Regions from separate parts of the Homo sapiens genome. Here all the other regions are linked to region 2. The links come from fine-mapping of genetic effects on gene expression. A gene starts in region 2. Each other region holds a variant in brackets. All regions are shown on one strand. Distances are between the middles of the regions.

Region 1 (10,015 bases), 130 kb after region 2:
GGTGATCTTGTATTTGTTTGGGGAGGTGTGGTAGACAGAATAATGGTCCCCCGAAGTTGCCTACATCCAGATCCCTGGAAACTGTAAATATGATGCCTTACATGGTTAAAGGGCCCCTGCAGTTGTGATGAGAGACCTTGAGAGAAGGGATTATCCTGGATTATTTGATGGAACAAGCATCCTTCTAAGAGGAAGGCAACTCAAAGGCAGAAGTAGAAGATGTGACACAGGAAGCTGAGGTTGGAGCGATGCGAGAGAGGGGCCATGAGCCAAGGAAAGCAGCTCAGTCTTAGAAGCTGAAAAAGGCAGGGAAACAGATTCTCCCTAGAGCCTTCCAGAAAGGCTTGATTTTAGCCCATAAGACTCATTTTGGACTTCTGACCTCTAGAATTGCAAGAGAATAAATTTGTGTTTTAAGCTGCTGAATTTATGACGATTCATTACAATGGCAATAAGAAACTAATACAGGGTTGGTTTTTAATTTTTTGACTTAATCGGTTCTTTAACTGCTGCCTTGAAGTGAGAATTTCACCCAAAGCAGGTTTTCTTCCTGCACTTCTTGAAGCCGGAAGTAGGACAAGGAAAAAAATCCTAGAATGCTGACAATGAGTTCAGGGTTGATGAGGTGAAAGAGTGCTTGCGGCCTCACTCACTGTCCCAGCTCTCAGGTTCTCTCTCGGGCTGGGGTTTTTCTTCCTCTTTAACCCTTTATCTGCTTTCTGTCTGTTCCTTTCCTCAGGAAATCCGACAGCTACAGCAGAAACAGGCGAGTTCTATCAGGGAGATTTCTGATCTTCAGGAAACAATAGAGTGGAAAGACAAAAAGATAGGGGTAGGATTCCCAAGTCTTGAAAATCTACTCAAATGGGCAGCCTGCTTAGCAAATAGAGTTTTTTCAGAGTCTTTAGTTTGCAAAACCGCTTGTCTGAGTATGCATGCAACTCCCACGTGACACAAAGTCGTATTAATTTATTTAATTTTATTAAGTAGTGAATACACTAACTTATCCAAATTGATATGAACTTGGATTGTGACACGGACTCTCCATGGAGGGTCTTGTGAATGCGTAGCTGTGCGCTCTGCCTGCCCCGTGGCTGGGCCGGGCCGGTGGTTGTTGAAACAGCTGGAGTGAGGAGGACACTCTGAGGAGGTCTGATGTGTGCAAGTCCAGACGTCTTGGGATTATCTGCCTGGTGGTGCTTTGAGAAAAAAAATCTAAGCACCACCAGGCAGATATCCCCACTTTGAAATCTTCCCCAGGGAAGGTCTCCACATACCCTTCTCCCTCCACAAGAAGAAAAGAGGCAGTTCTACACTTAGAATTGAAGGATAGGGGGAACAGAACCCCACAAAGTAGTTGTCATGATTGGTAACAACAAATGGTTTCCCCAAAATGGTGATTCCTACACATAGCTCTAATAAAGACGTCGAGATACCTGCACAAACCATCGGCACGTTGACTCAAGCCACACTGTGTTTCCACTGTCACGCTCATCAGCACTTAGGAGTGTGTGTGTGTGTGTGTGTGTCTGCATGCACGCACACTTTAGGACCACTTCATTTATCTGAGATGATGGATACCAAGAATCAGTGTATAAAAATAGTCTAAATGGCTACAACAGCCGTCCTGGGAGGTGCTTAAGCAATCCCTTTTCTTTACTGACCCCTCATTCAAGTGGAGACTTTGCGTAACTCTAACGCAGCTGTGAACACGCAGACAAAGCTAGAAAGTGATGCAAATATAGTAACCTCTGGGGCCCCGTGCTGTGTCCGTGTGCTTCAAGATGCGCATGTCTTTCATGGAGTATGAACAGTAACATTTCTTGGATTATATATACTAAGCGAAAAGCTTAATACTTGGATTTTGTTAGTATCTTTAGGCAGAGTCTCTTTAATGTCTAGAGTCCACTAGTGTTTTAGATGGTAGAAGCCTCCTTCTGGTTCCTGCTTCTGAAGTAACTTGCTCATCTGTGCAAATCTTCTTCTTTCTCTTGGCTCTGCTGCACACTCAGGCATTAGAGAGGCAGAAAGAGTTCTTTGATTCCGTAAGGAGTGAACGGGATGATCTTAGAGAAGAAGTAGTCATGCTGAAAGAGGAATTAAAGGTATGAAGCCAAACTACAGTTTTATTTAAAAAAAAAGAAAAAAAATCCAGGTGACAACAGCAAATTTTGGGATGCTGTGAATATGTGTGTACATAATTCATTTTATGTCATTTAGTTCTGTTAATAATTCATATATTGGGTTAACTGACAGCGATGAGATGTAAAATAAATGTAGGTTCAGTGGGTGGTGCCCAAGGCCTTTTGATGTTAATAAACATAGCCAATCTTGAATGCAAGAATTTTTTGATACATTATCTAAATTTTTCTCATACTCACTAGTAAATTCTCCAGGATATTACTCAGACTTAGAGAATTAATTTGCCTCTTTATATTAAAACCCCCAATTTAAGGACTTCTCTAGAGGAACAGTGACTTGGGTAAGTGGTTTGGGCAAGGATCCCGCTAATTAGACTTTGAGACCTACTAGATTACAGGTGGAAGACGGTTCCCTGTCCTTGGTGGGCCACGCCAAGGCGTCTTCAGCCGCTGCTTGACACAGGTGAAGCGCCAGTGGCAGCACTCTGGGTGGGGGGGTTCCTGAACCGTCACCATCTGCTGCTTGGCCTCCAGGGTCAAAGCCAGAGCAGTGAGCCAGCCAGCTACAGGCTTAGAGCTAAGATTCGTAATTCTGCTCCTTGAAGAGGCGATCAGTTCAGGGGAGTTCCTCACACACAAGGGAGAGAGAGCCACAGGCGGCAGGAGGGCATGGGTGAGTGATGTCTGCAGTTGGGAAGTGCTGCTGTTTTCAGTGAATTCTGTTTCTTTTGAATATACTGAACATTCTAGCCACCTCTGAATTCCTTCTTTAACATAAGTTTCGTGTGTCTCTTTCAGAACATGTATATATTTCTTTCTTTATCTGGTTTCTCTTTTTAAAGAATGCAATCAGGGTTTTGAAATGAAAGGTCACTTGGCAGTGACTTGCTTACTGCTCCACTTGGGGGCAGCCCACAGGCCACTACCTGTAGTTAAAAAGGATGCCTGGTGGAAGTAGCTTGTCACCAGCAAATGAAAGCATGGATTGGAACATCTGAGAAAGAAGTAGCCTTTGGAGGACGATATCCCAGATTTGTGTGTGTTGACCGAATATTTACGAGTGCTGCACCCTAGCATTTCTCTTGTCTCTGTGGAGTTACCCTGTACTTCAGGAAAAAATGGTTTTCTTTTTTATTATTGTATTAAAACAGAGTTTAACCTAATATCACTGAGTAAATATTACGATGAGCCTATTTTTGTTCCCAGAAACATGGAATAATCCTAAATTCAGAAATAGCTACCAATGGAGAGACTTCCGACACCCTCAATAATGTTGGATACCAAGGTCCTACCAAGATGACAAAAGAAGAGTTAAATGCCCTCAAGTCGACAGGGGATGGGACCCTAGGTAAGTATTTGCTTTCCTTCGGCTCCTCACACCTTTCCACTCAGCATTGGTTCACCCTCCATGCACTGCTGGGGTTGGAGCCACCGTCGCTGATGGGTTAACAGTCACCAGCATGCCATTTGTTTCATCACTTCATGGTAATTTCCTTGCCCACCCGGTGTGGTCACCCACGTGTTGTCTGGCATGCATCTCTGTGTAGTGCACCATCAATGGCTCAAGTGAACCTTTTCTTTTGCTGCTCAAAGCTACCAAGCAAGACTGTGAAGGCAAAAGGAAAACAGTCTCAAAATTAAGTAACAATGTGGAGAGTACTATTTGGTTTTCCTCAGACACATATATATCTGTACCTATAAAGTGTGGCTTTTTAAACCGATTCTATGACAGAATTATCAAAAGATCAGAATGGTTGAGGCCGTCAAGTCAGTTGGCCATATTTGCAAGCCAACATCGACATCCTGGGCAGCATTCAGCGCTTTGAGGGTACGGGGTGCCTGTGGACAGCAGGTCCGTCTGTGTTGCCTTTTTCAAGCCACCGCTCGAGGTGGGCAGGCGGCCGTGGTAGTGGGTGTGGCGGTGCTGAGAGTCTGAGTATGCCCACCTTTGTCAGAGGGGATCCTCCTTTGTATGCCACGTGTTTGCTTCTGAAAGAATATAAAACTGGGGAATCCAGTAGATCAGAGGAATATTTTATACCATTTTCAATGATCTGATTTGTCATAATTTGTCATAAGAGTTGGCTTTGGGAGAAACCTTCAGATTCTGGCGTGCAGCCTGAAGTTGCAGCGTGCAAGTGAGGCCTCATCTGTCACTGGTCACCCTCTGCGTTCCAGTGTTTTACAAAGAGGCTGGAATAAGGTCAGGGTCCGTGACTTTTCATTTTAATGTAGAAGCTTTCATCTTATTTCTTTTTATTTATGGAAATGTAGACACCTCCAGGCCCCATCTTCTCAGGCCTCGCATTCCAGGGAGGTACCTCATTCATTATCTTTATGACTATTAAAGAAACACAGCTCTTTTCAATTGTGTAAAAAAAGTTGTGGCCTAGTGCAGTGGCTCACACTTCTAATCCCAGCGCTGCGGGTGGCCAAGGCTGGAGGATCACTTAAGACCAGGAATTCCAGGCCAGCCTGGCAACCTAGCAAGATTCCGTCTCTAGATAGGTATGTAGTATCTATATACCGTTGTTGAGAAAAGATAAATTAATCAATTTCCATCATACCTTTATATGAGCTACCCGAACAGCTAGGAATCTGATTACGCTGCTCTTACTCAAATACACATTTTATAAATCTTTGATAACCATTGTGAAATGTTGTAAGAACCAGAAATGTCAGTTTTGAAAGTGGCCTTCAAATGACTTTTGATCACATATTCCTTCAGCAAAGAATTGTAGGATCCAATATGTATGTTTATTTTAAATCTACATATGTATACTATTTCATTAATATAAAATGTACGTTATAAAATATATGCAAAGATATGCAAAGAAGTTTTAGAGTAAAACTCTAAATAGAATTCCTAATATTTCCCCCATTTTCCCTGGGATATGGGCACCCCACCATGGAGATCACTGGGCTATAAAATTATCTAGCTTTGACTTTCAGTAACATAGTACCATATCTAATCTGCTGGGGTTTTGTTTGGAGAGTCCAAAAATTCCAAAACAGTTTGATGTTCTTTAGACGATGAATAATTTATCATTTAATTTAGTGGTCATCTTGATCTTGAACATTTGCCTCCTGCTGGTCCTCTCTCCCTAGTCCCTTAGGGAATGGAGCAGAGGTATCAGGGCATGGACACAGGGTGTTTTCTCAGGAAAACAATAGTTGAGTGGCAGAAGATAGATTTCCTTTCATATGAGCTATTTCAAAAGCATCTTCCTTGAGACTGACCTTGAGGCTGCATTTCTAAAAGTGCACTGAATATTCTTTTTAAAAATTACTTGAAAGCTGCTTTTAGGGCTGTGTGACATGGAGTGCAGTTTGACAGCTGCAAAAGTACAAGTTGTCAAGTTGTTCATTGAGAAGTGAGAGTGGGGAATTGAACCTTCAGTCTGTTCCTAAACCCATCATTGTGGATTGTTTGGCTGCCTGATCCAGAGTTCTTTCTATTTGTTGAAACTTAACGTCACCTTTAAAAATCTGTCCACACAAGATGGCACCAGCAGCCACTCTGGCCTTTGATGTGGTGGCAGTGGCCCTCACTGACCCAAAATTTACTAATGCAACTGCTGCTTTGCCGCACAGAACTGGCAAAGGCTTGTTTCTCATGACTCTTTGATGACTCTGTCTTTAGGAATAGGGGTGGGTGGGATTTGGAACGTGTGTTTACATTCTAATGTAGATTATGTGGCCGCCACATCATGGGGTCCCTTCAATTTTCTCAATGGTCTTTTAGGAAGAGCCAGTGAAGTGGAGGTGAAAAATGAAATCGTGGCGAATGTGGGGAAAAGAGAAATCTTGCACAATACTGAGAAAGA[A/G]CAACACACAGAGGACACAGTGAAGGACTGTGTGGACATAGAGGTATTCCCTGCTGGTGAGAATACCGAGGACCAGAAATCCTCTGAAGACACTGCCCCATTCCTAGGAACCTTAGCAGGTGCTACCTATGAGGAACAGGTTCAAAGCCAAATTCTTGAGAGCAGTTCTCTCCCTGAAAACACAGTACAGGTTGAGTCAAATGAGGTCATGGGTGCACCAGATGACAGGACCAGAACTCCCCTTGAGCCATCCAACTGTTGGAGTGACTTAGATGGTGGGAACCACACAGAGAATGTGGGAGAGGCAGCAGTGACTCAGGTTGAAGAGCAGGCAGGCACAGTGGCCTCGTGTCCTTTAGGGCATAGTGATGACACAGTTTATCATGATGACAAATGTATGGTAGAGGTCCCCCAAGAGTTAGAGACAAGCACAGGGCATAGTTTAGAGAAAGAATTCACCAACCAGGAAGCAGCTGAGCCCAAGGAGGTTCCAGCGCACAGTACAGAAGTAGGTAGGGATCACAACGAAGAAGAGGGTGAAGAAACAGGATTAAGGGACGAGAAACCAATCAAGACAGAAGTTCCTGGTTCTCCAGCAGGAACTGAGGGCAACTGTCAGGAAGCGACAGGTCCAAGTACAGTAGACACTCAAAATGAACCCTTAGATATGAAAGAGCCCGATGAAGAAAAGAGTGACCAACAGGGAGAGGCATTGGACTCATCGCAGAAGAAGACAAAGAACAAGAAAAAGAAAAACAAGAAGAAAAAATCCCCAGTACCCGTAGAAACCCTTAAAGATGTTAAAAAAGAGTTAACGTATCAGAACACAGATTTAAGTGAAATTAAGGAAGAAGAGCAGGTAAAGTCTACTGACAGAAAGTCAGCAGTGGAAGCCCAAAACGAGGTGACTGAAAATCCAAAACAGAAAATTGCAGCAGAAAGCAGTGAAAATGTTGATTGTCCGGAGAATCCTAAAATTAAGTTGGATGGAAAACTTGACCAAGAAGGTGATGATGTACAAACAGCAGCTGAGGAGGTACTAGCTGATGGAGACACATTAGATTTTGAGGATGACACCGTTCAATCATCAGGCCCGAGGGCTGGTGGTGAAGAATTAGATGAAGGTGTTGCAAAAGATAATGCTAAAATAGATGGTGCCACTCAAAGCAGTCCTGCAGAACCAAAGAGCGAAGACGCAGATCGCTGCACCCTGCCCGAACATGAAAGTCCCTCACAGGACATTAGTGATGCCTGTGAAGCAGAAAGTACAGAGAGGTGTGAGATGTCAGAACATCCAAGTCAGACCGTCAGGAAAGCTTTAGACAGCAATAGCCTAGAGAACGATGACTTGTCGGCACCAGGAAGAGAGCCAGGGCACTTCAATCCAGAAAGCAGAGAAGATACCAGAGGAGGGAATGAGAAGGGCAAAAGCAAAGAAGACTGTACCATGTCCTAAGCTGAGGCAGGCGGCAGGCGCGGTGCACAGGAAGTCTCAGTGTGAAGGGGTCTTTTCTCTCCACTGCCAATGTAAGTAGAATGTTCTAAATTCATAGAGAGGCACTGTATGACAATTACCAGGTGCTCTACTGCTTTAAGTTATAGACTGTTACTTGTAGATTTCCATGTAATCATTGAGGTTATCACCCAGATTAGAAAGACATATTTGTTATCAGTGTACGTTCTAATTGAGAGCATTCCAGTAGTATCAAACAATAATGTCTACTGTTTATAGTCCACTTAATAAAAATAGAGGCATTTACTATTTGCCTTAGGCTGATAGGAATGTGGGTTTTCTTGACCAAATATATCAGCATCTAATTGAAATGACCAAATAGCATTCTTAGACTTCTGTATTATGAATATAATTGATATTTAAATTAATGTCTTGTTCACATATGTGTACTTTCATATTTGATTTTAAAATGTACATTATAACCTGTATGGTATTTTATTTAAAGGAGATAAACAGCCAAATAGCAAATAGGTCACTGAATGATAAGATTTGCACCTTAGAACAATAATCATTTTAAGGATAACAAGTAAATGTCTGAAAGCATGAGGGGCTTTATTTGCCTTTACCTCATATGAGTCTTTGATCTTGAACCGATACTTTTGGATCTCATTGTTGATATACCTGAATTTACTTTGTAAGAGATTTTAACTTCACTTCATGCTGATGATGTATCAAATTCATTTTATAGAAAGATTTAAAGTTTTTTTCTGGAAGTGATATATGTCAAATTACATTTCCTACTGCAGTATTTGAGCAGGGACAGTCATTTTTTAAATGTTTTTGGCCGGGCGTGGTGGCTCATGCCTGTAATCTCAGTACATTGGGAGGCCAAGGCAGGTGGATCACCTGAGGTCAAGAGTTCGAGGCCAGCCTGGCCAACATGGTGAAACCCTGTCTCTACTAAAAATACAAAAAATTGGCCGGGCGTGATGGTGGGCGCCTGTAATCCCAGCCACTCCAGAGGCTGAGGCAGGAGAATCGCTTGAACCTGCGAGGCAGAGATTGCAGTGAGCCAAGATCAAGCCATTGTACTCCAGCCTGGACAACAAGAGCGAAACTCTGTCTAAAAAAAAAAAAAAAAACACACACACACACAACACAATGTTTTCACGCCTGTAAACCTAGCACATTGGGAAGCCAAGGTGGGAGGATTGCTTGAGGCCAGGAGTTCAAGGCTGCAGTGAGCTATGATTGCACACTGTACTCTAGCCTGGGAGACAGAGTGAGACACTGTCTCTAAAAAAAAAAAAAAAAAAAAAAAAAGTTTTTGAACCTTAAAATACTTTGTTTGAATTTCTAATCATCATTCAAAAGAGCAGTAAAAAATGGTTACTTGTTCTTGTACAAGCTACTAATTAGACTATAGTAGGATATTTTAAAGAGCTGAATCACTTTTGGTATTTTGGTATAAATATTTTCATTTGTTATGTCCCAGTATATTCTTACTGGAAAATTCTTGTTTTGATCTGCCTGAAGAAAATATCTGTTTTCTATATAAAAAAATTTTTTAAAATAATTGTAAAGTTAGATTTAAAATTGTAAAATATAAAATCACAAAGGAATGTACCTTATGAATGTTGTTGACATTTTATGAAATTATGTGGATTCATATTACTGTTACAAGATAGAATTGAATGCAAAAAGACCAAAACCTCAATAAAATTTGAGGAAAACGTGTTATTATGTAATTGAAATAAAAACATTTTATAATTGTGCAAGCCTGTGGTTCCACTCTTTGGGCTGCTTGAAGTCTGAGTCTGACTACTGTTGTATGTAATACCACCTTTGAGTAATATCTGCTTGGGGGTTGCTGATTCCTATTGGGGTTCCGTGGAAGACCCACGCCTGATGCCCTCCCTCAGTAAGGAATGCACTTCCCTCCTGGCATCGAGCCTGGGGCTAGCATGGGCATTACTGGGAGAACTGAGACGATTGTCACGCACCATCCCCTGTGATCTGTGGTTCTGATGTGCAGCCTCAGCTGAAAACGGTCTTCACCTGTGGCTGTGCTTACCTGCGCCACTACTTACAGTGTTTTGAAGAGCAGGATGAAAACGGCAAAAACCTTGACTGTTTCTGCTCAAGTGTCCTGAAGTAGAGGATGGTGGGGATGATAAATGCTTGCTAGGAAATAAGTCCAAGGGCTCTATAGGACTTCACAGGGTTTTAGTTTATGTCTCTAACTTTAGCAAAGCTGCATTCCTATTGGAATGCATACTGGAAACAGCTCTCATTCCTACCTTTAAAGGGCTCTTGGAAAGCAGTGTGACAACCAAGGTCACTAAATGGTGAGATCATCAAGCCATTTTAAGTTCTTTCTCATGTTATTCACCAGCACCCTGCAGGACGTTGGGCACACATCACATCCCTCAGCTCAGCCATCCAGCCGTCTCAGTGATTCACCACTCATTTGCTTAATTAATAGACAGGTTTGATCACTTTGTACATGGAAGGCACTGTGCCAGTGAACAAGCAGTTGGACCCAGCCCTCCAGTAGGGAATGGACAGCTGAAAATCCATGAGCAAGAAAGAAG
Region 2 (10,015 bases):
TTCAGATGCCCGTTTTCCCCACTGCAAGAGGAATCCAACTTTCATCAGATCCTTGCATCAATTAAACTTTCTTTACTGCAAAAAAAAAAAAAAAAAAAAAAATGAATTCCTGGTCTAGAACCCTTTTTTTTTTTTTTTTTTTTTTTGAGAGGGAGTCTCGCTCTGTCTCCCAGGCTGAGTGCAGTGGCGCAGTATCAGCTCACTGCAAGCTCTTCCTCCTGGGTTCAAGCAATTTTCCTGCCTCAGCCTCCCGAGTAGCTGGGATTACAGGCATAAGCCATGGCACCTGCCCTTAGAACCCAGATGTTTTTGATAATGGAAATGATCCGCAAGTATTTTTAAACTCCCACAAGTATTTGCATATTTATGTACAAATTATGTTCCTAGTTTATCATCATTAGTTAATAAATAAAGGCACAATATCCACTTAGAATGAAGTTAATCATTAATGATAGGAAATGTAAATTAATGTTTAAATAGTTTTGATGGTTACTAAACGTTCTTATCCTGTCTAATAACCTTATACTGAGGCCAGTGAAGACCTCCTGCCTGAACTAAGAAACAAGTCTCTCATTTTCTTGTTTATTTGTGGCTTTTGGGAATCTTTTAAATCTTTTGAAGCCATTTATCTACTCTTTGAGTTTTAGTTAAAACTAGGTTAGGCAATCCATAAATCCTTTTAACCTGGTCCACCGAAATATATCAAAATATGCAGAAAATGATGTAATGAGAGAGCACGCCACTGCCAGCCCCTGAAATGCTTTGAGTGAGTGACCGCTTGAAATAAGCTTATAGACCAAAAATTAGTAACATTGGATTTCTAATTTTTAGTTGAAGATATATATAACAGAAATTCTATATTTGCTTCCCCTACCCCATAGATTGTCTCAGACACCCTACCCTGGAGACACCAAGTCCAGAAGGTGACTTATGCTAGTAATCCACAGATGAGGGATAAGGGGGACCAGCTGCAGAGCTTGGTGGTATCAGCAAACATGCCAAAGGAGGATCAAAATGATCAGATAGAGATGAAGGAAAAGACCAGCTGGGTATTTGATCAGATTTAGTAGAGAAAGGAGAAAGGATTTCAAAATGGTTCCAAGGTTTTTACTCCAAAAAACATGAAAAAGTTACTGGAAGTGATGGTGTCCTGGGAAGGAAGAGGCATTTATTGGGGCAGGCATCATCCACTGATTTATTTTGGAAGTGCTGTGATTGAGCTACTGAAAGATGCACCTGAAAACGTCCAGCAGGACAAAGGAGACACCATTCACCTCCTGAGCAACACATAGACCCTGACCTCAGCCAGCCCCACTTCTGGGCAGAGTGCTGGCTCCAAGTTCCATGCGTGAGAGATGGCTCTCCTCTACGGGTCCTTCAGCATTCCTGGGGGGGGGCTGCAGTTCTCCTGCCCTGCTCCAGCTGTAATCCAAAGCAGGGCTTTCCATCCTCTGGGAACTGGAAGAGCAAGGCTGGAGTGCTGGTGAAAGAGGTTTGAGGTAGGCCCACGCGGATGATGCTCTCAATGGACCCAGAGTGAGTCACGTTATGGCCCACATGATGGCTCAGATGGCTCTCTGCCTGAGAAGCTCTGAGTCCTCATGCAGACTGGACGCCCCTCCGTAGCTGCTCATCAACTTCCTTTCCCAGCCAGCCCCCAGGGCTTGCCCACTGAGCTCCTGAACCAAGGCAAACTTGCGCTGGGGACGGCGCCGCTGTGTGGTTTCCCTTGCCAAGGCTTCCCTGGCTGCCTCCACTTTCTCGTGGAGGCTTCCTGAAGGTGGCATCTGTATTTTTGTGAAGGGACTTGGTACCAGGCTTGGAGATGAACATGTTAATTCTCTGGCCCTGGACATCAGATCTGTGATATAGTTTCTCAATTTCCTGCTCTGAAGTAAGCCCTGGTGGGTAGTGTCACCATCTGGAATAGGAAAAGGGCTAGATGGGAGGGGTCAGTAGTGCTGGTGGCAGAGGCCAGTCTTCTCAGTGGAAACAGGCTCATGCACTTCCACGCAGGGAGGGCCGACGGTCAAGGGTGGAGGAAAAGCCACAATTTTTCGGTGAACCCATGGATCAGCATGATGGAGTCTTGCAGGTCTTTATCTTCCTCCAGGAGGCACCCCAAGCACGGAGAAGACCCACCAAGCTGCCTGATACCTCTGTCTAGCTCCCCTCTGCCCAGACAGGAACTGCTGTTCACCATTCATTCCAGACCTGGGCCTTTGAGGACAGGAGCTGTAAGGATGATTGATCGATTGCCTGTGTGTGAAGCCCTGGAAGGGCTCTTGCCTAGAATACTGTCCCTACCCTGACAAGGTAGAGGCCATGGTCTGGATGGCGGTGGCCCCCCCATTCATATGTCAAAACCTAACCCTCAATGCAAGGTGGGGCCTGCAGGTGACCAGGTCCTGAAGCAGAGACCTCATGAACGCGATGAGTGCCCTTACACAAAAGCCTGGAGGGAGCCCGTCTTCCACCATGAGATGACACACAGAAGGCACCATCTGTGAGGAATGGGCCTCAACCAGACACTGATTCTGCTGGAGGCTTGATGCTGGACTTCCCAGCCTCCACAGCTGTGAACAATACATTTCCGTGGTTTTATAAATGACCCTGTCTAAGGCGTTCTGTTACAGCAGCACAAAGGAACTAAGACAGTGGGCACCCGTATTTCCATTTAGAGGCGGAAACTGACTCTGAAGTGAGAACCGGTCCACTCTGAGAGCACATCGCCAGGGGAAGAGGACTGTAGCCAGGAAGTTGTTATGTCATGGGGTCATGGGAGGACCCAGCAATGTTGTTTCTGATGATTTCTGAAAGGCGGCTCTTTTCTGGAAGTGGACAGATGATGGGGGAGGGGCAGGAAGCTGAATTCACCACAGTGTCCGAGAACACTGTCTACCAGCGGGAGCTGTTCAGACACACCTCTGGCCAGTCCCCACGGCAGTGAATCTCCTGTCTCTGGACAACAATCCAACAGGGAAAGTGGGGAGGAGGGTTGGGAACTGAACTCTGTTCCACAAGTTCAACCACTGCACTCCACTAAGCAACTGGCACAGCCAGTCCCTGGTGAAGGCTTAAAGATGAGGAAGATGGGGTCAGCGCCTGCCCTCCTGGCCTCAACACATCAGGATGGAGGATTTAGGTGTTAGCAAAAAGTGGCTCAAAGTTCCAATGAAGGACAGGGAGCAAAGGGAGACTTCTTTTAGAAAGGAGACGTTGGAACTTGGATATGGCTTTAGTTAAGGAGCTCCAGGCATCTCAAGTCAGCCCTGAGAGGCAGCAGCCGTGTCTGCCTCTCGGACAGCTATGCCCCAGCCTCCAGCTCAGCAGCTGGCAGGCAGCAGGTGTGGGTGCAGGAATGAGTGAACTCATGGGGACCAGCCTCGGCAAAGACGCACAGTCCCCACAGTGCCCCAGGGGCTGGGAAACAGTGAGCAGCCACCAGCAAGACCAAGGCAGTGCAAGTGGCCACGGCTCAAGGTTTCCCCCAAGGAGGACTATGTCACTTAAGGAGTATGGCCTCTGAAGTAATGTAAATATGGCCTGGAAGATTCAGTCAACACCTATTTCCTTAGTGCCTACAATGTGCAGGTGCAGTTTCTGCTCCCGGAGTTCAGTCATGAACAATGCCACAGTCAGCCCTGCCAACCCACCTGCGTCAGCTCAGGCACCCAGAGCAATGTCACCTGGATCTGCCCTCCCTCCCATGTCACTGGACTCGCTGTCTTTTCCCTGCAATGAAACCTCCAACAGCTTTCCCTGCCACTGTGGGTGGAAGGGCCCTCTTCCTCTTCCCACCTTCATACAGCTTCCAGGCCACCTCCTTAAGAATCCAAAGCAATCTGGTCACACCACTTGGTGGGAAATACACCGAAATGTTAACTGTCCTTATCACTGGGGGAAAAAAATCACAGGTGACTTCAGTACAGCCTCCTCTCCTCTACCATCACTACCCTCCCTCCCATCCTTCCCCAGGTCCAGCCACACTGAAGTTCTCCCCATACCCCAAACACACCAGTAACTTTCCCACCCGGTGCTCCTGCCGTGCCCTAGGCAGGGGCTTTTAACCCCTACCTAATCCTCCGATTTGCTTTACTTTTAAATCCACCTCTGGAGCATAGACTGTGAGCTTCAGAGAGCACAGGTAAGTTCATTACTTTTTCAACAACTAGGAGAGAGCTGCGACGCACCTGCCCCGATCCTAGAGGCTGGGGACCCACCAGAGAAGTGACAAGTCCTTGATCTCAGGGGGCAGACAGCGGGGAGAAGGATGGATGCTAGCACGGAGAACACGCGTGTAAAGACAGAAACGCACACATCCACACCATGCCGCTGTGAAGCCGGCGCCCAGGAGGCTGGCCAAGGTCACAGGAGCGGCGGTGGCGGGCGGATCCGAGCACCTCTCGGCCTGACCCCAGAGCCTAGCTCTCACCCCGGCGAGGGACTTCCACCCCGACTCACCGCGGAATGGGGAGCGCCAGGCTGAACCAAATCCTGTGCTCACCCCTCCGTGCAAACCCCTCAAGGCAACTCAGGCCTCTGAAAGCCTTCCTACCCCCCCGCTCTCCGCTCAGGTCCCCACTCAACCGGTGCCCACCGCCCTGGCGCGCGTCGCTCCGCGATTACCGGCCCGCCAAACAGTCCCCGCAAAGTCCACCCTCCGGGGCTCCCGGTCCCTCAGGTCCCGCGTGCCCGGCCCTGGGCATCCGCAGCGTCCCCGTGGTATCGGACCCCCATCGTCCCTGACACCTGGCGTCTCCGCCCCCCGCCCCCGTCCCCCGCCCCGCCGTCCCTGGCCCCTGCAGTCCCTGGCCCGCGCTGCGGACCTCCGGCTCTGGCTTCCCCCGGGTCCCCGCGGCCCCCGTCCCCCCGCGTCCCCGCGTCCCCGGCCCAGCGCCCGCTGACGCCATGACGCCGCGGCGGAGGGAGGGGCCGGGGCCGGGGCCGGGCCGGGGCGGCGCGAGCGGCTGGAGCAACGGGCCCCGCGGCAGCTGCGGGCGACGCGGTCGATGGACATGGGCACCCAGGGATCGGGGCGCAAGCGGCTCCCCAACCGGGAGCGGCTCACGGCGGAGGACGACGCGCTCAACCAGATCGCGCGGGAGGTGAGCGCTCCGGGAGGGCAGCCGGGGGGCGCCGGGCGGGCGCGGGGGCCGGACGGCTGTCAGGGTCTCTCCGGCGTCCGTCTGTCCCGCTGTGCGTCTGTGCCACTGCGCGTCCGGCTCCAGGCGGGTGGGCCGGGCAGGCGCGCGCCGGGGCGCTGATCCCCAGGCGCTGCGCCCCGGCCCCGATCTCCGAGGCCTGCGGACCCCGCACCCGTTCTCCAGCCCCGGGCCCAGCCCGCGACGCTGCGCGCCCTCCCCCACCCCGGCCACCGTCGGCCGCTGCGCCCTCGGGAGAGGAGCCGGGCGCCGCCAGCGCGCGAGGTGGCCCGGGCTGGCCGGGTGGGGGCGAGCGCCCCGCTTTGTTGTGCGGCATGGGAGGAGGCGGGGGCTTAGGCCCGACCTGGAGGCAGTGGACGGTCGCCGGAGGCCACATGGCCCTGCTGAAATGGCCGAGTCGCTCAGGTGACCATTTGTCATCCATCCATCGATGTCACTCAAGGTGCAGCTCAGAGATGAACTTGGGGATCACTGTGATTTTTCTTTCAGGACTGAGCCTGGAAACGGGTCCAGGCACACTGAAACGTCTTCATTAAAGTTTCCTGGACAGAGTTTATTGTAACTAAGATCATGTTTGGTGATGAACTTTACCTGTGACAAATTGAAGGCGCACTAGAATGGGTATTTGTACAAATGCCTTTTTTTTTTTCCTTCCGCAAGGATTCTACCTTAAGGCTAAAGAATGTACATGACATCCAGAAAGCCGTACAGGGACAGAGAGCAGCAGCTTGGGAAAAGGGGAGCCAATAGGTTGCGGCCCCAGGGGGACAAAGGAAGCTTAATTTTTGACTGTGTTCCCTTTGTACCATTTGAACTGTGTGCCAGGTGGGTGTATGAATGCAAAGAAAGTCTCTGCCTTGTAACCCGCCTTACAGGTTCTTTTCCGTGTTGGCTTTTCCACATGTGATTCTTCCCACAGGAAACACCTCCAAGCCATTTGGACTGTGGTGTCTGGCTGTATCCGTCAGATATTCTGGGGGATCTACTCTGTAACCAATCCTTAGGTGTTTGTAGTTGTAAATACCTGATTTTGCTCTTACGGACATGTGGCAGTCACTCAGTATTTGTTGACTACTGAGTGAATAAAGACTTCTGTTTTTCTCTGTATGATACAGAAAAGGGCTTTCCAGGCAAACCCTTATTCATTCCTGGAAGCCCACTGTGACCTCCAGGAGACCTTCCAGACTCAGCCCTCTCACATCGCACCAGGCCTAAGTCTCCCTGGCTCCACGGCCCTCCATGGCATGCCCGCGCCTGGCATGGCAGTCAGGATACCTTATCATTATTTGTCCACCTGTAGAAGGTGACACCCAGACAGGAAATATCTTACTTTTGTATCCCAAGAGCTCAGCACAGAGCCAGGCACATACTAGGTGTTTGTCTATGTCTGTTACATTAATTAATAAACAAAAGAAGTACAAGGCATTTAAAGGACCTTTGGCTAAATATAGACATTTGCTAAATATAGTAGCTTGAGTATAACTCCCTCCTGTGAAGACAGTCACTTATGTATGCATTTGACCACAGTGCCTTACAAGTGTTCCCTGCAAGGGCCAGAGGTGGCCAGTGAATCGCAAGCCTTGTCTTGATGTCAGTGGTTATGGGGCAGAAGAATGAGAAGAATGAAAATTTCCAGAGTTTGCCTTTTATCCACTGGTGTTTCTTTCTTCTTTTTTTTTTTTTTTTTTTTTTTTAACACAGTCTCACTCTGTTGCCCAGGCTGGAGTACAGTGGTATGATCTCGGCTCACTGCAACCTCCACCTCCCAGGCTCAAGAGATCCTCCTGCCTCAGCCTCACCAGTAGCTGGGATTACAGGCACGCACCACCACACCCGGCTAATTTTTGTATTTTTAATAGAGACGGGGTTTCACCGTGTTGGCCAGGCTGGTCTCAAACTCCTGGCCTCAAGTGATCTTCCCGCCTTGGCCTCTCAAAGTGCTGGGATTACAGGCGTAAGCCACTGCGCCCAGCCTATCTGCTGGTTTTTATAAAATAGATTGAAAAGGAAGGCAAGGGAACACTCCTTGGGTTGAGAGCCCTGAGGTCCTCCCTCCCACCGAGGGAGATGCAGTTGGAGTTACAGAGATAGACTTGTGAGTCAGAGCTGGGCTTTCAAATGACATAGTTCTTAGCCAGCTGTGCCATCCTAGGAAGGTGAGTTACTCACTCTTCTCTGGGCCTCTGTTTTCTCGTCTCTAAAATGGAGAAGAAGAAACCTCCCCTGGCTGTCAGAATTAAAGAAAGTGGGTAGCAATGTAAAGTATGTAACTAGGCGGTGGGTAAATATGAGAGCTTCTTACACGCCCCTCCCGGTAAAACCCAGCCGTAGGTGCAGCTGTTACTAGTGCTGAGTAGCACAGATTGATAGGGTTGGAGGGAGCAGGTGTGACATCTTATGTTTTAGTACAAATTAACTTCTATTTCTCAACTGTGAAAATGAAAATCACTATTCAAATGGCAAATATCTACTCCTTGAATTCATCAGGGTTCTTATAGAAATCAACAAAATCGTCTTGGGTTCAGTACTTTCTTATTCACTCATTGACTCAACAGATACAAGCCATGGTATCCAAATTCCTGTCCTGGGGAGACTGGAGAGTCAGGGAGGAACCCGGCGAGGACCTGCCTGCCCTCCAGGAGTTGGGTCAGAAAGGGGTTGACACCTGTAGATCAATAATGCTAACCGAAGACAGGAAGGGATCTGATATAAAAAGGGCGTAGACAGTGTTCTGAAGGTTTGGACATGAGAGAGAATCACAGCCGGCCAGTGGTCTCAGAAGTGGCTTCCTGGAGGAAGTGGCATTTTGAGTTCTTGAAGGCTGTATGTACCAGTCAAGATGCTTTGGCTGCTGGGACAGAAACCCTGACTGGACTGACATTGACAAGGGGAAGTATATTGGCTGGAGCACAGCAAGCCCGGAGGCAGGGCAGGATTCCCCGCCAGCCTCACCAGTGGCTCCGGCCTCTTTTTCCCACAGCACCTGCGCAGCTGGTTGGGCTGGGCCATCCTCTGTGGGTGGCCTCATCCTCAGGCTGACTTGCTTCATGGAGGCCAGCTGGCCTTGGCTTTCCCGGGCTGCCACTGTGGAGCCCACACACCGTCTCTTCTGGTGGCTCTCTCCAGAGAGCTAGCAGTATCTCCCTGGTAAACTTTCATGAGTCTGTCTGGCCACTCCTGCACCAAGCTCTTTGACAAGGACCATGGACTTAGGGGCTCAGTGCCTGTGGCAAAGGGGGGTGGGTCTACCCTGTGACCTGTCAGACTCATCCTGGGACTGGGGAGAGCCGGCCTCCCTGAAACACTTGGGAAGGTGGGGGCCTGAATGGAAACTGGGGAGGCTTCAAGGAAGTGGGAGGGAGTGGGCTGCCACTTGGGCCTGGCACCCAAGAACATGCCTTCTGGAGAGTAAGTGGAAAATTCTGGGCTGAGGTCATTGGGAAGCCTGAGTCACCTGGCAGGGACGTGGGTTCCAGTTCGCTGGAGCGAGGGGAAGAGCTAGGCTGCCCTGTGCAGGCAGGGCTTTGCACTCTTCTGGGTAGAAGCAGGACTCGTGGTGGGGGCAGCCTTTGGAGGGTGCATTTCTGCTTCTGCAGCCGGTGTCCTGCTTCCATGTGATGGTTTAAACTCTAGGCAAGCGTGTATAGTAAAGGGAGTTATTTGCAAATGCTGTATTATCGCAAGTCAATTATTTCTCACTCTCTTGTTGCAGTGGAATTCAGGCGGGATGTTATCAGGAGAAAGGTTTAGTACGCACTTGCAGAAGCTCATTAGCACCAAAGGCATGAGCTGCGCCTCCCACTTCTGGGGAGGGGTGTTTCCAACGCAGATAGATTTTCCTCTCCTACCGCATTTCACATTCTACTGGTGCATTTTGGTAGCATCCCAAACTTCTCATTCAGCACTCTGCAGCTGAGTAAAGCGATACTGGTCTCACCATGCAATTCAAAGTATTGCTCTCAAATGAAGAATGTTTTTCCCAACAGGAACAGTCATTTGCGCAGGCTGCATTAGGAACTCACCGTGGGGCCTTGAGACAGTGCGGTGAGCTTATTATCCCCTGGTGGTGCCATAGGTACCCCTTCCTCACCCAGCAGGACGGAGGCCCTCCCCCCATAACTGTTTCTGCAGCCTCCTCTCCAAGCTGGCCCCTCTGTGGCCTGCGGCCTCGGGCCCTGATCCATGGCAGGGGCACTGCTGCCCCACCCGGCTGCTTCACCGGCCCCAAGTTGACTCGTGGGCCTGCGGGTGCTGTTGGTTCAGGCCTCACAGCCACCGCCTTTCACTTGAGCCACGGCCACACAGGAGTCCAGTTGCGGAGAAGGGGTCGCACTGCCCCCAAGGAGTCCAGTTGTGGAGAAGGGGTCACACTGCCCCCAAGGAGTCCAGTTGTGGAGAAGGGGTCACACAGCCCCCAAGGACTCCAGTTGTGGAGAAGGGGTTGCATTGCCCCCAAGGCAGCCTGCAGCCATCAAGTAACCATTTTGTGAGGTCACAAAATGTCCCCCAGGCTTGTTTCAAGATGCAACCAATTCTGTGGTACGTTTCCTGCTCCGGAGCTCTCTGCGGGCCAGGCTGAGGCCAACTCCTGCCGAGACCACCTCCCTCCCCAGCCCTTCCCTGACTGGCCTGCCCCCCTCATGCCCCTGCTGGGACAGGGCTCACATCCAGTCCTGCCATGGGCTCTGCTTCTGGAACCCAACATAAAGCCATGCCCCTTGTTTCAGGTAGTTCGTAAATATCGGGTCTTTTCATCCTAAGTCCCCCTTTCATTCATCTTTTCTCCCTGTCCTTCCCAAATAGCCCTCCTATATCAACCTGTGCGGAGGGAGCCTGTCTCTCTTCTCCTC
Region 3 (10,015 bases), 53 kb after region 2:
TTTTCTTATAATGTAAAACTTTGACCATAATTTTATTGTGATAAAATATTTCTAAGATTTACCATTTTAACCATTTTTAGGTGTAAAGTTCAGTGGTTTTAAGTGCGCTAGTGTGTAGCCATCACCATCATCCACTTCCAAAACTTTTTCATCTTCCCAAACTGAAATTCTGTACACATTAAACACTGACTCCCCAAATTCACAGAGCTGAAGGTGGAGTGGGCATTGCTTTCCCCAGCCCTTGGCAACTCCCATGCAACTTTCTGTCTCCATGAATTTGATTAACGTAAATTTTTACTACTGAGCTTCGCTTTTCCAATAAAAGTTCAAGGTACATAGTTTAAATGTACATACTTTAATGCAAGCAGTATTGCATGACACCAGCCTGCCTTCTTTCGTCCTTTTTAAAAAATTAGACCAGAAACTGTTGTTGAATCCCATGTTGCCGGTCCTGATGGTTATCTTTCTAGTGAGACCCGAAAATTCACGTGGGGACATGACAGCTTTCCATTTTCATGAATTGCAAATGTGGAGGGCTCATGGTAGGGAGATGGTTTTATTTTTGTGGGTTTTGTTTCGTTTTGTTTTTTGAGACAGAGACTCGCTCTGTCACACAGGCTGGAGTTCAGTGACACGATCTCGGCTCATTGCAACCTCCGCCTCTCCGGTTCAAGGGATTCCCGTGCCTCAGCCTCCTGAGTAGCTGGAATTATAGATGGGCAACATACCTGGCTAATTTTTGTATTTTTAGTAGAGATTGGGTTTCACCCTGTTGGCCAGGCTGGTCTCAAACTCCTGGCCTCAAGTGATCTGCCCATCTCAGCCTCCCAAAGTGCTGGGATTACAGGCGTGAGCCACAGTGCCCGGCCCAGGAGATGGTTTTAAAACAGAGATGTGCCCTGGTTGCCTTCTCTGAAAGTTTCTCTCCACACAGATCTCCTGACCTTTGGTGTGGCTGATTTCACGTGGAGTCTGTTGGATTCGCACCATCTGGCTCCTGTTTTCTGGGGAAACTCTGCGCTGGCTTTCGTCTTCCTCCTTTTGTGATTACATAAACAAAAGGGTAAATTGTTTTCTTAAACGTTAGTTTTAAATTGTGCTAAAATACACATAACAAAGTTTGCCATCTTAACTATTTTTAAGTGTACATTTCAGTGACATCAAGTATACTCACCCTCTTGTGCAGCCAGCACCACCAGCCATCCCCAGAACTTCTTCATCTTGCAGAACTGAAACTCTGCCCCCATTAAACGCTGACTCCCCATTCTCTTCTCCATCCAGCCCTGGCACCCATCATTCTACTTTGTCTTGATGAATAGTATGAGGTACCTCATCTAGTTGGAATCATACAGCATTTGTCCTTTTGTGACTAGCTGATTTCACTTAGCATGATGTCCTCAAGGTTTTCTCACATTTTAGCAGATGACAGCATTTCCTTCCTTTTTAATTCTGAGTTAAATTCCACTATGTATCTATACTACATTGTGTTTCTCCATTCAGCCATCAGTGGACACTTGGGTTGCTTCTACCTACAAAAGACCAAATTATTTTGTCCATTTAATATAAGTTATTTGAAGGCCAGGCACAGTAGCTCATATCTATAACCCTAGCACTTTGAGAGGTCAAGGCAGGAGGATCGCTTAAGGCCAGGGGTTTGAGACCAGCCTAGGCAACATAGCAAGAATCCAATCTCTACCCAAAAAACTAAAAACTACATAATTAATAAAATGTGAATTATTTGAAGTTTCAGTGCAGATCCCTTCTTATCACTGTATTATCTGATATTATCGAGCCACCATGAAACCTCTAGCACAGCCTACCTGTGGTACCGGGAGGCCACCCTCCCAGCCACATCGGGGTCTGCCTGATTTCTGCTTTCCTCACTGCCTGGGTCCCTCTGCCTTCCCCCAGAGACGAAGATGCTGCAAGTTAGACTTGGAGCTCTAATATTGTATTCTAAATGTAGGGCATATATTTTAAATAATCGTAGAGTGTTAGAGCTAAAAAGGTTTAATATGCTTTATATTAAAAACATATTTATCTTGTTAATACTCTGAGTCCATTGCGTCACCTCGGGCGGACCATTTCCCCTTTTTCTAAAACCTACACCATGGGAGGGTCTCTTTGCCAAAAAGGAGAAGTTCATGAGCTTCCATTGCCTAATATCATTCTTTGGAGGCACAGTCATAGCTCCTTATCTGGCTCTCGAAGTTCAAGTCCAGCTGTCTAGATCATAACTTTCAACTAGGAAATCACCGGGTGCCTTAAAAAAATAACCAGCGCAAAGTTCAGGCCTCTTGTTCTAGAAAAGTAGTAAGGTTACTCCTACTAGAGCCACGGGATGTAGAATTCCAGTTACTGTTGGGGTTGTGTGTGTTTTAACAGGCACACCTCTTTCCCTGCAGCAGGGGGTACACAGCAGGCTGTGCAGAGTAGGGCAAGGTAGAAGCCCTGGGGTATGCAGGAAGGTGGGTGGGGAGGGGCTGGTGTGTCAGGGACAAATGTCAGCTCCCACATCCCTTGGTAAAGTGTGACTGGGTACATCAGATTTAGATTAAATTATCCTGAAACTATTTTTTTTTCTTTTTTTGAGACAGAGTCTCACTCTGTCACCCAGGCTGGAATGCAGTGGAGTGAGGTCAGCTCACTGCAACTTCTGCTTCCCAGGTTCAAGCAATTCTCCTGCCTCAGCCTCCTGAGTAGCTGGGATTATAGGCACCTGCCACCAAGCCCAGCTAATTTTTGGATTTTTTTAGTAGAGACAAGGTTTCACCATGCTGGCCAGGCTGGTCTCAAACTCCTGACCTCAAGTGATCTGCCTGCCGTAGCCTCCAAAAGTGCTGGGATTACAGGTGTGAGCCACAGCACCCCGCCCCTCAAACTATTTTGTAGCTTGCATTATATAGATCAAACACCTTCATTGCACTTACATCTCTAGTATTGTATTTACTTAAATAATGATTATCAATAGCAACTCATTTAATCCTTATAAACCCTGGGAACTGGGTACCATTATCCCTCCCATTTTACAGATGAGGAAACTGAAACACAAAGAGAGGATATGTAACTTGCCCAGCGCTGAAGACTCCCACCAGGCACAGCGCGCCTAGAATCTGTGCTCCCTGTCACCACAGTAGACAATTGTACTCCAGCATCAACAATGAAAATCACTTTTCACTGACTTAAGTATTATTCCTTCTCCAAGTTGATCTTCCACTGGTCTAACTTAGATTCTAGCCTTTAGGCAAGAGTATCTTGTTATGAGACGTGTAATTTGTTTCCTTTCAGGTGCCTTGCAACACAACTCTGTTTATCTCATAAGCAGTTTTAAATGCTATTTAAATTCTGACAAGGCTGAGTCCTGTACTGTGTGATTACAGAGCAAGCACTAACTCACAAAGCTACTGTGTCCTGATTATTTCTCTAATTGTAGAGTAATTTAAGGAAGAAGGAATATATCAGCAATAACCGTAAAATGATGATGATAATGGCAGTTCTGATGTTCATACCCAACAAAGAAATCAGCAATATAACTACTGAAAGGGTGTAGATAAAATTTGTAAATACTTGCGGATTATGTGTATGTCTAATCCAAAAAGTCAGTCTCAAACTGAGAGTTCAGTAAGATAGTTTGTAATAACAGAAACAAAAAACCAAAGCATTCCTATATCCTACCGTAATGATTTTTTTTTGAGACGGTGTATCGCTCTTGTTGCCCAGGCTAGAGTGCAATGGCATGATCTCGGCTCACTGCAACCTCTGCCAACTGAGTTCAAGTGATTCTCCTGCCTCAGCCTCCCGAGTAGCTGGGATTGCAGGTATGCACCACCACGCCCAGCTAATTTTGTATTTTTAGTAGAGACAGGGTTTCACCATGTTGGTCAGGCTGGTCTCAAACTCCTGACCTCGGGTGATCCACCCGCCTCGGCCTCCCAAAGTGCTGGGATTACAGGCATGAGCCACCGCGCCCAGCCTGATTTTTTAAATAATGGAAAAAATGATAAAATCCCACTCAATGTTGCATGTAGGAATAAAGAAAAATGCAGGGCCTATATGAAGACCATAATAATTTACTGAAGGACATAGTCAGTTGAAAAATGCAGAGAGCAATACCTTGTCTCTGAACAAGAAAACTCCACATTAAAAAGACACGGATCCATCCCCAAATAAATGATAAATACAGTTGGCCCTTTGTGTCTGTGGGTTCCACATTCATGGATTCAACCCATCTCAAATCAAAAATATTTGGGAAAAAAAAAGGCTGGGTGCAGTGGCTGGCCAGGCACAGTGGCTCAGGCCTGCAATCCCAGCACTTGGGAAGGCCAAGATGGGAGGGTCGCTTGAGGCCAGGAGTTCAAGACCAGCCTGGTCAACACAGTGAGGCCCCATTGCAATAAATAAATAAGAAAATATTTGGAAAAAAAATGGATGGTTGCCTCTGTACTGAACATGTACAGACGTTTTTCTTGTCATTATTCTCTAAACAATACAGTCTAACAACTATTTACATAGCATTTACATTGTATTAGGTATGAACAGGAACCTAGAGATGATTCAAGTACACAGGAGGATATGCACAGGTTATGTGCAAATACTCCACCATTTATGCTCAGAGACTTGAGCATCTCCAATTTTGGTATCCCAGTGGTTGGAAGGGGTCCTAGAACCAATGCCCCTTGAATACCGAGGGACAACTGCATAATGCATTTCAAATAAAATCTCAGTTTAGAGGGGAAGGTTGGTTGAAAGCTTAACAAATAGACTCTAGGCCAGCGTGGTGACACATGCCTGTAATCCCAGCGCTTTGGGAGATTGAGGTGGGCCCATCACTTGAGCCCAGGAGTTGGAGACCAACCTGGGCAACATGGTGAAACCCCATCTCTATAAAAATACAAAAATTAGCCAGGCAAGGTGGCACAGGCCTGTGGTCCCAGCTACTCCAGAGGCTGAGATGGGAGGATCACTTGAGCCCAAGAGGTGGAGGCTGTAGTGAGCCATGATCACGCCACTGCACTCCAGGCTGGGTAGCACAGTGAGACCCTGTGTCAAAAACAACAACAACAATGACAAAAAGAAAAAAAACAAATAGACTCCTGAGTTAATC[T/C]GGAAGAATAAATGGAGAGGCTGGCCAAGAAATTTTTGAAAAAACATAACAGGGGTAGTTTTCAACTTTTTTGTAGCCCACAGCTTCTTTATTCAAACACAATCTCACCTCCCTGTTCAAATACTTTCAGTGGGTCCTTTACTGCTTCCTGAATAAAGTCCAAGTTCCTTAACCTGCGTACTGTAAAAAGAGCATTCTGACAATATCCAAGGGTGTTCAAAAAGCAATGTTTACAACTCCCACAGTTCTACCACTTCGGCAGAGCAGCCCTGTGTTTATTCTGCATGTCCTTCTGGTCTTTGCATGCCTATGTCTTTTACACAGTCCTATTCTTTTTTTTCTTTTTTGAGATGGAGTCTCGTTCTGTGACCCAGGCTGGAGTACAGTGGTGTGATCTTGGCTCACTGCAACCTCCGCCTCCTGGGTTCAAGCGATTCTCCCACCTCTGCCTCCTGAGTAGCTGGCATTACAGGCCCATGCTACCATGCCTGTCTAATTTTTGCATTTTTAGTAGAGACGGGGTTTCACCACATTGGCCAGGCTGATCTTGAACTAGTGACCGCAGGTGATCTGCCTGCCTCAGCCTCCCAAAGTACTGGGATTACAGGTGTGAGCCACCGTGCCCGGCCGCAGTCCTATTCTTTTTTTTTTTTTTTTTTTGAGACGGAGTCTCGCTCTGTCGCCCAGGCTGGAGTGCAGTGGCGGGATCTCGGCTCACTGCAAGCTCCGCCTCCCGGGTTCACGCCATTCTCCTGCCTCAGCCTCCCAAGTAGCTGGGACTACAGGCGCCCGCCACTACGCCCGGCTAATTTTTTGTATTTTTAGTAGAGACGGGGTTTCACCGTTTTAGCTGGGATGGTCTCGATCTCCTGACCTCGTGATCCGCCCGCCTCGGCCTCCCAAAGTCCTATTCTTAATTGTGTTCATCTGAGGACTAAGAACTCCACAAGCTTGGCTTTGGGAATAGCAGTAAAGCAACAACACAGTGCTGGGCTCGAAGACGGACAGCTGCCTGAAAGACGGCAGAAGCTCCCTGAGTGTGCCAAAAGCACTGATGAAGTTTTAAACCTAGTCCAAGCTAACTGAGTGATGCTAGACCTTCCCGCAACTTCTCTAACCTGGATGTAAATTGTAATTCTAGAGCCCCTTGTTTTGCGGGAAAAAAATAATCTGTGTATGGTCAAATAGCAGATGGAATGAGCTGCCAGACGGAATCTTTTGCCAGTGCAACGGAACAAAGTACTTGTTCATGCCAGGCTCAGGTCCCCTGTTACTTGCAGTCCTCCGGGCAGTCCTGTCTGCTGGCTGTCTCTCTCCCTGCTTTACGTAGGAAGCTGGAAGAGGTCAGGGGATTTCCTTGAAATTACAGGCTAGTGAATGGCAGAACAGGAGCTCGAGCCTGATTATCTGCTAAACCTCTGCTTTGGAGCTTTGAGGCCTTCTGCACAGGTCACTTGCATTCTCTGTGTAGGGGTGCAGGGTTGTTTTCTCTCCCATCGGCTTACTCTTGGATTGGGCCTTCCCAGAGGTGCCGAGAAGCAAAACCCAGTTCTTTGATCTTCTCACTTCAGCTGTTCTTTCTTCCAGCCAACTTCCAGGATTACATCCCTTGGTGTGACCACACCACATCTGAAATCTCAACTCCCCACTTCCCACCCAGTGACCTGCACCTCCTGTCTTTCAATGCTCCTGGCGCTGACTTTCTTGCCGTCCCTGACAAGCAGCCCTGCCTTCAAGTTCTCACTGGATGAAAGAAGAAGGCAACAGATGTTAGATGCCGTGTGCACATATTCCCATCTTGACCATTCTTTCTGTGCATGCTTTGCTGTGGAACTGTTGGGGCCCCATCCAGCTGTATAAGCTGAGACATGAATGTGCTTCCACAGTGTGGGCACCTCGGATGCAGGTACAGGCCCCTCTAGATCCAGGGCCACTTGGCAATGTCTGAGATATTTTTGGTTGTAACAGCTGGGGTGGAGAGCGCTGCCAGCATCTGGTGGGTGGAGCCAGGAACGCGGCTAGCCATCCTGCAATGCACAGGACAGCCGCCCACGACAAGGAACTGTGCAACCCCAAACGTCAGGGGACCCTGCTCTTTATCAATCCTAGGGTTTCCCAAAAAGCCCGACAGCACATTTGATACAGATGCCACCAACGGGGTGGAGACAAGGGGCGAGGGCTTCAGTGGAATCTCAGCAACTAAAATCAAGCCGACGGTCAGGTCAGAGAAGCATTTGGAAAGCCTCCAGTGCGTTTAGGGGACCACGCCCTCTCATCATGCCAAGGCAGCTGCCCAGTGAGGTACAGGGTATAAAGGTGACGTGGTCAGGAGTGGCTATTTGATCTCCAGTTATTCCAGAATTTCCACTCTCGTGCCAAGCATGTCTCTCCAAATGGCTGCTCTCTGGCGTTCCTCACACTCCCCCTGAAGTTCATCTAAGATCTTCATTCTTCAAAGGTGAGGCTTGTATGTTCTATGTCCAAGTCTTCTCTAAAGATATCCAATTTGTACACATGGAGAACATTTTTTGTACTCGAATAGTTGATGACTTTGCTTTGAGCTATCTCTCAAGGGCCAAAGTGCAAAAGGGCAAACCCTTCTATTAGAGTGTGGGTCTATGTTTTTAGTGTTATGCCGAAGTGTGTTTTAGCCTTTATTTTCCTTTATGGAAATTCATTTTCTTGGAAAGATCATTTTGGGGATGCTGTTTTAGGATTTCTGTACCTTCAGCTGGAAGGATGCTCACCGTTCCTGATGTTCATGTCTGCCCTTCAGTCAGGGAGCCTGGAAGCCAAGTTGCTTAGTGGCAGTGCTTTACTTTTAAGCCTTCGAATACATCTTGAGTACCTTAAACTTCTCTGTATGCTATGGGTACTGTTTAAATTCAGATTATGGAGTCCTATTCTCCCCACACTTCTTTTTTTTGTGAATGACATTTATCAATGACATTTGTAGCGTGGTGGATTCTGAAGTTTTCAGCTAGTAGCGTAAAGATTTATTTCATGGCTCTGACTGTCAGGAATATTCTCTTTTCTAGAATGTTAAACTCATAGGCAGGATTACTGAGGCAAAGCCACATAAATGAGGGAATCTCTGGAAAAAATACATTGCTTTTATTTTGTACTAAAATTGCCATTTTTTTTTTTTTTTTGGCCAAGTATAGTGGCTCACACCTGTAATCCCAGCACTTTGGGAGGCCGAGGCGGGTAGATCTCTCGAGGCCAGGAATTCAAGACCAGCCTGGCCAACATGGTGAAACCCCATCTCTATTAAAAATACAAAAAAAAAGTAGTTGGGTGTGGTGGCACACACCTGTAGTCCCAGCTACTTGGGAGGCTGAAGCAGGAGAATCACTTGAACCCAGGAGGCGGAGGCTGCAGTGAGCCGAGATCACACCACTGCACACCAGCCTAGGCTACAGAGCAAGACTATCTCAAAAAAAACAAATTGCCATTTTCTATTCCTAAGTATATATTGAAGCATTTGATTTATTTCTTCTCAGTGGGGTATACTGTTAGCTGGTGAATGCAGTTGTTGAGGATGAAGCTTATTTCCCCATGTCAGCATCTATTCTGAACATTTTAAATGAACTATTCTGAGAGCATGTATAGATTTTTTTTTTCTTCACAGGAGAGCTGCCTTAGGAGGACTTTTCAGAGTTTGTGCCTGTAAGACTGAGAAATACATAATGGATTTTAGCTGTCGTGTTTTTAGAAGGTAATTGGTAGATATTTGCAGTGCATTGTCTTCATGAAAAACAAAATTGGGCCTGGTGCGGTGGCTCAGACCTGTAATTCCAACACTTTGGGAGGCCAAGGTTAGTGGATTGCTTGAGCCCAGGAGTTCAAGATCACCCTGGGCAACATGCTGAAACCCTGTCTCTGAAAAAAAAAAAAAAATTAGCCAGGCGTGGTGGTGCACACCTGCAGGCCTAGCTACTTGGGAGGCTGAGTTGGGAGGATAGCTTGAGACAAGGTTGCAGTGAGCCAAGGTTGTATGTAGTGAGCCAAGATTGTGCCATTGCACTCCAACCTGACACTCAACAGTGTGAGACCTTGTCTCCCTACCCTCCCCCCCCCACACAAAAAAACCCCAAAAATCAGAAGTGGTTTTCTTAGAGATGCTTTACTGGAGGTGTTTGTGGCCATTTCCTTGGCTACTGTGTATAGAGGAGGTTACTGTGGTCACTCTGGTATGGACTTAAAAAGCATCAATTCTGTGGAACACACTGGGAAAGCGGATACATTTAGGATTGCTATAGACTTATTCCTAGACACTTTTTGAGATGAGTTTAATTCCAGAGTAAAATACATTAGAAATTATTTTAAGTATGCCTCAGAGTGTATCACAAAACAACATTTAATGGTGTAATGTAACGCCATGGAAGGGCTCTGAGCTCAGGTACAGTGCACCTTGACTGGGACACATACAGCTCTGAGGCAGGTCCTTCAATATTGGGTCCTCCTGCTCCTTATCCTCCCTCAACTCTGCCATCCACTCTTCCTGCACAGGAAGCTCTGCATCTAGTTATCTGCCCTCTCCTGGCCACTTTGGTGTCCTCATTCCCATGGAGCTCACAATCGGATCAAATCCTGAGTCAGTACAAGATGCCAGTGCCTGCAGCTCCCCTCCCCGCTCCCCACACCCAGCCTTTGGTCGGCAGCCCCTCAGGCCTTGCCCCACCCACTCCATCTTTTCTCACTGTCCTTTCAGCCTCCAGACAGGCTCACATCTCTTCCATCCTTAAAAACCGACAAACCATGAATAAATCTCCCCCATGCAAAGCCTTTTCCTTGGTCCCGCCTTCCTTCAAGGCTGCCGTCTACCATTTATTACACATGCACAAATCACAGAAAATGTTTAATTGCCAAATTTTAATGGCAGAATGTAATGACCAGTGTTTTTCTAGT

What was found. PIP is the estimated chance that this variant, and not a neighbour inherited with it, causes the effect.
Region 1: its variant is fine-mapped to the expression of LRRFIP1 in blood mononuclear cells (TOPMed, PIP 0.94). The same link has a PIP of 0.9 or more in whole blood.
Region 3: its variant is fine-mapped to the expression of LRRFIP1 in whole blood (TOPMed, PIP 0.99).

What each region holds. Positions count from the first base shown.
Region 1 is chr2:237,756,717-237,766,731 of GRCh38, forward strand. LRRFIP1 (LRR binding FLII interacting protein 1) reads left to right here. Exons shown (of 24, transcript NM_001137550.2): 17 at 740-832; 18 at 2,013-2,105; 19 at 3,348-3,489. Among named protein-coding and RNA genes, the nearest start is that of RBM44, 37 kb to the right of the region's middle. RefSeq lists a silencer at 5,713-5,925. The variant A/G (reference allele first, on the strand shown) is at 5,969.
Region 2 is chr2:237,622,633-237,632,647 of GRCh38, forward strand. LRRFIP1 (LRR binding FLII interacting protein 1) reads left to right here and starts at 4,955. Exons shown (of 24, transcript NM_001137550.2): 1 at 4,955-5,108. The coding sequence starts at 5,013. RefSeq lists enhancers at 8,362-8,861, 8,864-9,425.
Region 3 is chr2:237,675,934-237,685,948 of GRCh38, forward strand. All of the region lies in intron 1 of LRRFIP1 (LRR binding FLII interacting protein 1), which reads left to right. Among named protein-coding and RNA genes, the nearest start is that of LRRFIP1, 53 kb to the left of the region's middle. The variant T/C (reference allele first, on the strand shown) is at 5,105.